Linked DNA regions of Homo sapiens. The protein of the gene in region 2 purifies or fractionates together with the protein of the main gene of each other region. This does not show direct contact. Each region holds a gene or a part of one and is shown on either strand. Other genes may lie near its edges. The genes, in order: ACSF2, ACAA2 and LARS2.

Region 1 (3,652 bases), on a different chromosome or scaffold from region 2:
CATCCCAGGCCTGGCCTGCCCACAGCCCGGGCCGCAGTCACCACTCACCACCAGGTCCTTCATATTTATCTTGTTGATGATGGCTCGGATCAACTCTGGAGGTGCAGGGGACCCAGCAATGACACCTGAATCAGAGAGAGGGCTGACACAGCTCCCCAATTCTCCAGGCCCAGTGGAGTCCTTTCACCTACAGCTCATTCAGGGGAGGAACATTCCCTTTTCTCCTCTGACCCCGAGCCTTTCCTACACCTGGCAGCTGGCCCTGGGCTGGTGTCCAGGGACACTGGGGATCTCCCTCCCTCCCACCCACATTTTTACAGCGTCCTTCTTGCCCCCTATATAAAAGACTGGGAGCATAGCTAACTCACCCGGGCCATTCCTGTGGGGGAAGCAGCCCCCTCCCCAAGCCTGGCTGCCCTTGGCCCCACCCCACCTCCACACATGGTCGAGATGTCATAACTGGAGAAGTCTGGCTGGTTCAGAATGTCCACGAACATCGTGGGGGTACCATACAGGAAGGTGCCTCTGTATAGGAGGAGGTCTCGAAATTAGGCTTGGAAGTGGAAGGGAACTCCCTGTTCTCACCCACCCCGCCATGAAACTGCAGCAAAGGGAATAGGCAGGAGAAGCTCCTGAGGCAGGAACTGGTCCTCTCCTGGGGGTCCTCCACTGTCCCCATCCTCAGTCTCCTGGCTGGAGGGAGGAGGCAGCTTGGAAAGGTGTCAGGGCCCAGGAGTGAGGAAGAAGAGGGTTTTATCAGCCCACAAGTAGCCTGTCCACCAGTGCCCACCTCTCTCTGCTGATGGCCTCCAGTGCCTTCTTGCCATTGAAGATGGGAGAGGCCAGGATGAGGGTGGCACCGTACATCAGACACATCATTGTGCCTGCCACGGAACCCAGGCAATGGTACAGGGGGTTGGGCAGGATCATCCGCAACTGCTCTGGTGTCTGGTGATGGAGACAGGAGGCTGGGTCTGTCTTGGAGCCAGACGCCAGTTCCTCTCTAGCTGGCAAGGGGAGCCCAGCCAGCCCCCCACCCCTGCCTGAGCCACCCCTCCTGCAGCCTTGCCCTGGGCCTAGTGCCGCCTCACCTTCTCATGCAGTTTCAGGCGCTCTCCTAAAATGTTGGAGTTGTTGACAATGTTGTAGTGGGAGAGGGTGGCCCCCTTGGGGCTGCCTGTTGTCCCCTGACAAGGCAAACAGGGCATGGCTTGGCCTCCTTCTCATCTCCTTCCCACCCTGGGCCACTGCCTTGAAGAGCACGGGACCGGGAATCAGGAGACAGGGATTGTTGCCCCAGATCCATCTGTTCAGTATATTTGCAAAAGGTCTACCACGATACCAGGTGTCAGGGTCCAGCAATGCAGAAGATAAGGTCTCCGTTCTCATGCCACTTACATGGCCCAGAGAACTCTGCCACCCACAAGCTGGCTTGGGCAAATTCTCTCTTCTGCGTCTCTGATTCCTCATCAGCTAAATGAGGGGCAGCCTGTAGCAGTTCCAACCTGTGTTGGTTCAGTGAATCTGCCACTGCACCGGGAACAAGAGGGCTGGAGTGGAGAGGGCGGGGGGCTAGGGGAGGAAATGTGACAAGGACACCAGGTGCTGATATTTTCCAGGGCAGAGAGGACAGCTGAAGGCCAGTCTCAGTAAAGAAGGCATGCTCTCCTCTGCTGTCTCCCCATCCCCGCGGAAGTGTCACAGGGACAGGGGGCATGTGTCCATCTGGGCTTGGGGCCTGGAGACCTCTGCCCTACCGAGGTGAACTGGATGTTGATGGGGTCATGGCAGGACAGGAACTGCTGGTTGTATTGGAGCTGGTCCAGATGCTGCCGTGTGCTGCCAGCCGCCACCACTTCATCCAGGAGCAGGGTCCCCGGCAAAGGGGCATCCACCGAGATGACTGTGGTCAGATCTGGGAGCCTGGGGTTGGGGACGATGGTGAGAGACAGGGGCTGAGGGAGGGGGCAGGGTGGGTAGGAAGTGAAGGAATCAGGGATGCTGAATGATGCACCACCCACTAACCTGGGACACACCCACCTCTGACTCTTCAAGGCCCCTGGCTGGGCATTCTCCACTTCTGGACAGATCTGCTTCAGGACGTTGTAGTATTGCTGGGTCTTGAATTGCTTGGGGAACACAAGGGCCTTGCAGCCCACCTGTGGAAGGGGAGTCCCCCACCTCCAGTCAGCGGGGAGCCCCAGACTAGAGCTCTGGGGGAGTCCTCACTAATCAGCTGCTCTCATACAGATGCACCCGCTTCTGACACACACACCTCCAGCACACTCACAGGCACCACACTCCAAGACAAATGCACACATGTACCAGCCCCGAGACACACACACCACACCCTGAGACACATATGCATCACATATGAGGATGGACACACGCACACACACACACACACACACACACCTCTGCCCTGACACACACATGCCCCCGTCCCTGCACACTCACGCCAGGTTTGTGTCTGACCAACCACGCTCTCCTTGGAGTTGGGGCCACCTTCCAATCACACATGGCCTAAGGAAGGACACTCTGCGTATCACCCGCCTATGCATGCCCTAGCTCACACCGTCAGACTCTGACAAGCAGAGTCTGTGCAGCCCCCTGTGCCAGGCCCCAGCCGGGCCCCTCCCCGACAAATGAGCTGTACCTTCTTGAGGACATACTCCAGTTCCATAGCCTGGTAGGCTGGGTTCACAGACACCTGGTGGAAGCGGCGAGGGCATATCAGTATTCTGGGCAGACCCTGTCCCTCCTGCTGCCCCTCCGCCCCCAGGAGGCATAGAGGCAGCACTCTACAGCCCCCTAACTCCCAGAGACCTCCTTGGTGGGCCTCAGGAGAAAGCACTACCTGGTTTGAAACCAACAAGGCACTGGTTTGATCCTGGGGCTGAGGGCCTGAGGGGCTCCCCTTCAGTGATGTTCCCCCATGCACACCAAGCTGTGCCAAGCAAGCCCCTCCTCACCAGAATGATGCCCGCCTGGGCGGTGGCCAACTGCATGAGCACCCATGCATAGGAGTTAGGTCCCCACATGCCCAGCCGGTCACCTTTGCAGAGGCCAATGCTCAGGAGGCCAGAAGCAGCTTTGTCCACCTAGTGTAAAAGATGGGGCGCAAGGGGTGAAAGGGGGCAAGCAGGAAGGGGCCCAAGACTCCCACCCTCAGCCCTTAGCCCGGAGTTCTCATCACAGTCACTGGGGACAAAGGGACAGGCAGATTCCCAGCCTCAGTGGGTCTGCCCTGGGGCCTGCATAGTTAACAGGTGCCCCAGGAGCTGCTGATACAGGAGGCATTGGACCCCTTGTGCGTCAGTCCTGTCTCCTTCTCCTGCCATCCCTCGGGGTTCTCTGGCAGCCCTAGCACATTGCCCCATAGCCAGGTGCCCACGCTCCTGGTTCTGCCCAGCTAGGGCAGCTTGGGAGCTAGTACTTGCCCACTTTGAGGTTTCCAGGTCAGGACCCACCTCCTCCTTGAGTTGGGCAAAGGTCAACCTGACGTCTTCATGGAGGACGACCAAGGCCTCTCGTTCTGGGACCCTCTGTGCTGTGGTCTCCAGGCACTGGCCCACAGTCTTGCTGTTAAGATGCTTTTTGGTGCACCCCTGAACGTAGCTGAGGCCTCCGATGGGCGTGGAGACCATGCGAT
Region 2 (3,652 bases):
GTATTTTATTTCAAAGGAAGTGAATGATGCTGTTAGTAGAAGTACAAACTAGTTTGACCTTTTTAAAGGACAGTTGGTTAAATACATTTGTTTCTTTGAGCACAGAGAAGAAAGTGAAATCCAATTTCATTTGTAAAAGTCTTCATTTTATTACAAACAAAATAAGAGCCAGAGGCGTATTTTAATAAAACAATTTTCACATTAATTTGTTTCTATAACGATATATCTTAAATAGTGACCTCGGTTTTCCTAGTAATAATTTTAAGAACCATCAGGTTCATAGAGGCTCATTATTTGCTCCTTTTCTGAGAAAGGCAAACAGTGGAAAGTGTTGGAAGAATGAAGTGGTTTCCTTTTTATGAGTCACCTAGATTGAACTAGTTCTTGTAAATCTCTGTTCTTGTTCAGATACATCCATTAATGGGATAAATTTTTCTTTTGCCTTTTTAAAGGGTATGTCCTTTATTATCTGCTGTACATTTATGCCAGGTATTAATATCTGTTGATTTTCAAGATTTATATTGTGTTAAGAATTACTATTCTTAGCCACATGTAGGTAGGGCCTGTTACTCAGGCAAACATGATTGAAACCTTTTAGTTTTCTCCTCCTACATCTTGGTAATGGATACTTTAGCATTTGCTTTACAGTTACTTTAAAAGCATTTCCTTTTGAGACACTGTAAGCTACAGTACAATATTTGTTTGATTTACCATTAATTTGTAAAATCAGTGTGTTTCTTAATACATTGTTTGGGTACGGTAAAAGGAGTTTTTATTACTGTTTGTTTTTAAATAGGAAATTTGTGTTAAAGAAGCTGAAGTTGTTTTATGTGGAGGAACCGAAAGCATGAGCCAAGCTCCCTACTGTGTCAGAAATGTGCGTTTTGGAACCAAGCTTGGATCAGATATCAAGGTTGGAACCATAAAAATTTAAAAGAATTAGTTCTTATTAGCATTATATAAGTACTTTTAATAACATACCTTTTTATGGGAGAGAAAACTAATTTTGAAGCCAATTTCGTTGATGAGGATTGGCAAGATATGAATGATTAGAAGTTTGTAAACTATTTCAAAACTCTATTTTGGTGGTTAGTTTTGACATTTTAACCCATATGAAATTAGATTCTATCTATCTCAGCAGACCTCTAGTAGTATAATTATCCTGTGTAAGTGGCCATAGGCATGGGAGAGATGGAGGAAGGGAAGAAGTGGATTAAAAAGATAGACAAAAGAGTGAATTAATCTCACTACTAAACAATTAGTAATCTGAGTAATTAAATCTTTAACGTGACTTATAGAAGTTTTATTTCTGGGACAGTCTCAGAATAGATTTCTTCATCATCACAGAAAACATCTTTGAATACAGATTATATTGTCCCAAATCAAACAAAAACTGATTCTTTTATCTTTGAGAGCTACAACTTGAGAATGATGGTACAGTACTGATAAAGAATGATGTTTTCTTCTCATTCCCATGTGAAAGGGCTACTGACATTTTATATTTTTTAGCATTTTCTATAGTAATGTTTGACTCACACTGTTCACCCAGTTTCTCACCTGGCCTTTTTGGAAGTTGAAAGGAATGGGACTTAAGAGAATCTATGCGGATTTTAGCCACCAAACACATTTGAGATATCTTTTATGAAGACAGGTCAGTGAGTTAAATGTTGATGAGGCAGCAAAGTGGGGCACACTTACCAGAGACTAACTACTTGAATAATAATTAACAACCTTTCTGTAACTCTGGGAACCTGTCCCAAGATCTTTTCAGCCTCATAGTAACCGATAGAACCAGCTATTCCTGTCACTGAGGCGCAGGATGAAAAAGAAAAACAGATAATACTGTTTATTACAGAGCTCAGGGCTGGTTTACAAAGATGGCTATAAGAAAACATTGCATGAAGACTCATTGTCAGGTTTTCTACAAAATATGACCTTGAGGATTTAATTTTTGATCGTAGGGTAACTTCTGTGATCTCACCATGCACGTCTAGTCCTGTTAGCTGTTCTTAGACCCCCACATTTAGAGAGGGACAGAGAATGTGTGCATTTTATTTTGTGACATTGAATGTTTTCAAAAACATTGCATGTTTTTAAAAAATATCCCATAACTGAATATGAATAGTGGTTATCAGAAAGTCTTAATTTTACTTTTGTTTATTGGAAGTGTTGATTATTTAAAGAAATTATAACATATTACTTTTAAAAGGAAATGCCTTAACAAGTCACTTTATTAATGTCTTTTAATAGCTGGAAGATTCTTTATGGGTATCATTAACAGATCAGCATGTCCAGCTCCCCATGGCAATGACTGCAGAGAATCTTGCTGTAAAACACAAAATAAGCAGAGAAGAATGTGACAAATATGCCCTGCAGTCACAGCAGAGATGGAAAGCTGGTGAGTGAAACTGGAAAGTATCAGTATCTATAGAATAAATATCTATAGGAAATATTTTCATCATTTCTATTATGGTTATATAATATTTACAAATCATACCTTTAAGAATTATTACATCTTTTCATTATTCCTTTGTCTTTAGATGATCAGATATTTTATTAATTATTGCAAAATTAACTAGGAATTTCTCTTTTGAAAAAGTTAGTACTACTTAAAAAGTGGTATTGCTACTTGACCCTAGATGGACCCTTGAGTTTTGTGCTGAACTGGTCCTGTTGTCAGTAGAACATGATGAGGAATACGATACGTTCTGTCAGAGGTGATAGCTCACTGTGGCAACTGGAATATAGAGGATGTCCTCTCCCACAAGCCATATCATAATCATAAGAAGGGGTAATGTATTTGGAAAAGACCCACTGGGTCTTTTATGCTTTCCTTCTGCCACTCCTAATTAAGAATCATTGTACCTAACTCAGAGACTTAGAACTAGTCCGAGACTCTAGTTAGAGTGCCCTGGTGTAGCACAGCAGGTTGCTATAGAGCCGGTCCAAAACAGGCAAATGTGACAGCAGTTCTTTTAGCAGTGCAGCAAGTTGAAGAAATGTGATATTTAAAAAATTAAACTGTTAAAGCAAGTGGAAACTCTTATTTAGGAATATTAAATGCTTGAAGTAATGAGGATAAAGTCCATCTTAGCATTTCAGAAGGATAAGTGGAATAGAGCTGATGCCATCTAACTCGTGTGTTTTTTTACTTATATGTTCATAGTGGAAGAGGATTGGTCTAGAAGTCAAGAGTTATCAGTTCTGTTTCTACTTCTACCACGCACAAGTTATCAAGCTCAGTCATATCATTTATTCACTGAACCTCTGTAAGATAGAGATAACAATATTTGCCTTCCCTATTTATCTAATAAGGTTGTTTTAAAACCAAATAAGGGCATATAAGGAAAGTATTTTGCCAATTGTAAAGTGATATGAAAATTAAGGTTAGTATTATTCCTGACCCTATTTCCAAAGCTATAGATTACTACAGTACATTCTAGTCAGTGGAGGTCAAAGTAGGTAAGATGTTTTACTTATAATTGTATTAGTGATTGCTCCCATAATTTCTTCAGGTTGCCTATCACTATTAAGTTTCAGTTAGATTACTTTGTGGCATAGACAACTTGGTAACTTTTTAATTGCTTATCTCACCAAAAGAAGTTTAAAAGGGGTATTAAGTCCATTTATTGCCATTACATCTATAGCAAAC
Region 3 (3,652 bases), on a different chromosome or scaffold from region 2:
TGGGGTTTCACTGTGTTAGCCAGGATGGTCTTGATCTCCTGACCTCGTGATCCGCCTGCCTCAGCCTCCCAAAGTGCTGGGATTACAGGTGTGAGCCACCATGCCTGGCCTAATTATTTTATTTTCTACGCGGCCCAGGCAGGTCTTGAACTCCTGGCCTCAAGTGATCCTCTCAGCTTGGTCTTCCAAAGCGTTGAGATTACAGGCATGAGCCACTGTGCCTGGCCCCCACTGATCTTAAAAGCTTGGAGAGGACTTCATTTTTAAAAAGCATTTGTTAATAGCTTTAATGAATGCTTTTGTTGTCCAGTAGCTAAGAACATTTGTTGACAAATCCTTTCCCTGGCAAGAAAAATGGTAGTCACACTTAGCAAGAAGGAAGTCCATACTGAAAAGGCTGACTTTTGGCATTGGTGAGAACGATCCTGATCCATCCAGGTTAAATGAATATCAAATGTAATGATGCCGAGGAGGTATCACAATTCATTCATGAAATCAGACAGCGGGGGTGCAAAGAGCCAGAAGACAGGGAGGCCTGAGTCTGGTCCTAGATTTGTCACTAATCAACCAGACATGTCATCTAACTTCCCTGGGCCTCAATGTCCTCATCTGTAAAATATTGGGGGAGAAGGGGGTTTGGACCAGAAAATCTTTAAGAACATTCCAGCATAAAACTAGGTTGTGACTATGGAAAAATGTTTCCTTAAGATAATCAAGCCACACTGAGGCGGTGACACAGTGGGGGTGCTCTCTGTCCCTCTTGGGACCCTGTGGGGCCCCTTGCCACACCTCTCCCTCCCTCCTCTGCTACCAGCAAATGAGGACAGGCCACTTACCGAGAGGGCATTGCTGAGTCCCATCAGCTGAGAAATTGCAGAATTCAGTGAGAAGTCCTCTGTGAAATGGGTGGTCACCTATTAGTAAAGGTTCAATTATTTACTTATTTCAAAATTCTTTTAAGCTTTCCACAAAAAGACTGAATTATCAAAACAAAAAAAAAGGAAAATGAATGGGATGCAAAGATATTTATAAATATATCTACTATCTCAAATAATCGCTATGTTTCATCTACACAAATATTTTAAAATTCAAAGTCAACACTGTTTCCACTGTTTAAGACTATTCTTCCACATATCTGGGATACTGTTGGTTCTCATAGTAGGTGCTTAGAAAAACAGTGCTAGTGGCTGGGCACAGTGGCTCACACCTGTAATCCTAGCACTTTGGAAGGCCGAGGTGGGTGGATTACTTGAGGTCAAGAGTTCGAGACCAGCCTGGCCAATGTGGCAAAACCCCATTTCTACAAAAATACAAAAAATTAGCCGGGTGTGGTGGCGCATACCTGTAATCCCAGCTACTTGGGAGGCTGAGGCAGGAGAATCTCTTGAACCTGGGAGGTGGAGCCTGCAGTGAGCTGAGATTGCGCCATTGCACTCCAGCCTGGGCAACAGAGTGAGACTTTGTCAAAAAAAAAAGCAATGCTAGTAACATGAATAGGACGCAGGACCCACTGATGGGTAAACTCAACATAACAGAAAACAGGAATAAAGGATGCCACTTCTGCTTGGTTATGTGACTTTGCTTCACAGTGACGGTTTTTAGAATATGGGATAAGGTTAATTTTACTTTTTTTTTTTTTTTTGAGACGGAGACTCGCTTTGTCACCCAAGTTGGAGTGCAGTGGTGCGATCTCAGCTCACTGCAACCTCTGCCTCCCAGGTTCAAGTGATTCTCCTGCTTCAGCCTCCCGAGTAGCTGGGATTACAGGCGCGTGCCACCACGCCAGGCTAATTTTTTGTGTTTTTAGTAGAAACGGGGTTTCACCATGTTAGCCAGGATGGTCTCAATCTCTTGATCTTGTGATCTGCCCGCCTTGGCCTCCCAAAGTGCTGGGATTATAGGTGTGAGCCACTGCGCCTTGTCAATTTTACATTTTGAAATGTACAGTCAACATAAGAACATTAACACAGCTTGTCAGCTTTTTCATGTTTCTGTGCTTTTCCATTTTGACTATAGGCAAGAATACAGAAAAGTAACACATCTTTAAGGATGTCAAGAGTTTCCAACTTGTTGAAATAACCTAATTCTTTTATCTGACAGAATAGAAGAATTTGCCAAATCCAGGGAGAAAATATGTGGTATGAACTCAATCGCTCAGGCATCACTCAGACCCCTACATTCATTCAGGGAGCTCTGTTCCTCCACATAGAGAGGGTACAGAGGCCAGAAATAAAGCTGAAGAAGTGTCAACAAATAAGACCATGCTGGACCCAGGGCCACTTCAGGTTATACAAACCAGAGAGGCAAAAACCTGCCATGCATCATTGTGTTCATTATCAGAGTGCAGATGAGCGACACTGATTAACTTTATGTCTGAATCAGCATAACTTTTTTTTTTTTAAATCAGCTTAAGAAGAATTTGGGATATCAGATACCCATTACAATGACTTCAGATTTGCAGAAATTAACCCACAATAGTTCACATGGATATTGTGTAACAAAGTAACTGAGTGGGAAAGTCCTCACTATGTGGAGGACTGGGATTCTAATCTCTGCTCAGTTCCTCACTAGCCGTGTGACGTTAGGCAAGATATCTGGACATCATCTCTGTCCCCATCTGTACAATGAGGAGGCTACAGAGGATAGTTTCTTAATGCCCCTTCCAACTCTAAAATTGTATTTCTGTTAATGTAACATATGCGGTGTCATCCTGGATGACAGGGTGATCCTGGATTTGGTTCTCTGCTTGGATGTGTTAAATGTGGAAACATGGAAAGTGGCAGCTTCCTGAGACCCAGGATGGACAAATGTGAGACATCATCAGAGAGCCATTTCCTGGGGGCATCTCTTTCCATTAGAACATATGCACTGTTGATCCACCTTGGTAAAGTACCCAAAACAGTAGGGCCAATCAATCAAAGCAAGAAGGACCGCCATTGCCAGGAAGGAAGACCCACAGTGGCCCAACCCAAGGCAGGGAGGGCAGCAAAGACCACAGGCAAAGGTTCCCAAAGAGTGCTTGGTTACAGAGTTAACCCCTGGAATTGGAGAGTTTCTGACCTGAGAGATGACGGAGTTCTTGTACTCCCAGAGCTTCCTGGCCTCAGCTTTCTCCTTGTTACTCAGCAGCTGAGGCTGGGGAGACTTCCCAGAAGCCCTGGCCTCAATAAACCGAGTTGTCAAGGTCCACAGTCGTTGTTGCCATCTCAGCACCCCAGGGAGAGCATCAGCTGAATTCAGCATCAGTAAATGAGAAAGAGAGAGCGTGCAACATAAGGGTGATTGACTTGGTATAACTAAGCAGAGAAAAACACCTGTGAATTGATGTGACACTTCACTGCACCCTGATGGATTCCTCTGAGGGCAGGCTGAAGGATCCTCCCTGGCCTTCAGTGTCTGAGAATTCAGACCAGGACCAATTCTATCTCATTTTAGTGCCCAGATTCAGAGCACTGGATGGCAGGGCCACTCAAAGTGCCACCCACCAACGGTCATGAGCTCAGAAGCTTGGTCAAGATGAGCCCTGGTGCCCCGCCGCCTTGATTAAGCAAGCTTGCTGGGACAAAAATGCCATGGAGTTAACATGGTGCTTTGGAGACAGTGCTGACTCCTGCTGGTGCAAGCTCTTACCTTGTGGATAGCATGACTGTGC

The links.
Region 1: the proteins of ACAA2 (region 2) and ACSF2 purify together in Homo sapiens (affinity purification with mass spectrometry; one large-scale study listed by BioGRID and IntAct). This does not show direct contact.
Region 3: the proteins of ACAA2 (region 2) and LARS2 purify together in Homo sapiens (affinity purification with mass spectrometry; 2 studies listed by BioGRID and IntAct, with this or other methods). This does not show direct contact.

What each region holds. Positions count from the first base shown.
Region 1 is NC_000017.11:50,460,691-50,464,342, reverse strand, and holds part of ACSF2 (medium-chain acyl-CoA ligase ACSF2, mitochondrial isoform 2 precursor), read right to left. Parts: coding exon 3,471-3,652; intron 3,102-3,470; coding exon 2,973-3,101; intron 2,711-2,972; coding exon 2,657-2,710; intron 2,160-2,656; coding exon 2,041-2,159; intron 1,924-2,040; coding exon 1,758-1,923; intron 1,188-1,757; coding exon 1,092-1,187; intron 949-1,091; coding exon 791-948; intron 526-790; coding exon 434-525; intron 126-433; coding exon 49-125; intron 1-48. UniProt on the Homo sapiens protein: Acyl-CoA synthases catalyze the initial reaction in fatty acid metabolism, by forming a thioester with CoA. Has some preference toward medium-chain substrates. Plays a role in adipocyte differentiation.
Region 2 is NC_000018.10:49,793,026-49,796,677, reverse strand, and holds part of ACAA2 (3-ketoacyl-CoA thiolase, mitochondrial), read left to right. Parts: intron 1-796; coding exon 797-913; intron 914-2,250; coding exon 2,251-2,398; intron 2,399-3,652. UniProt on the Homo sapiens protein: In the production of energy from fats, this is one of the enzymes that catalyzes the last step of the mitochondrial beta-oxidation pathway, an aerobic process breaking down fatty acids into acetyl-CoA.
Region 3 is NC_000003.12:45,517,481-45,521,132, reverse strand, and holds part of LARS2 (leucine--tRNA ligase, mitochondrial), read right to left. Parts: intron 3,231-3,652; coding exon 3,061-3,230; intron 915-3,060; coding exon 837-914; intron 1-836.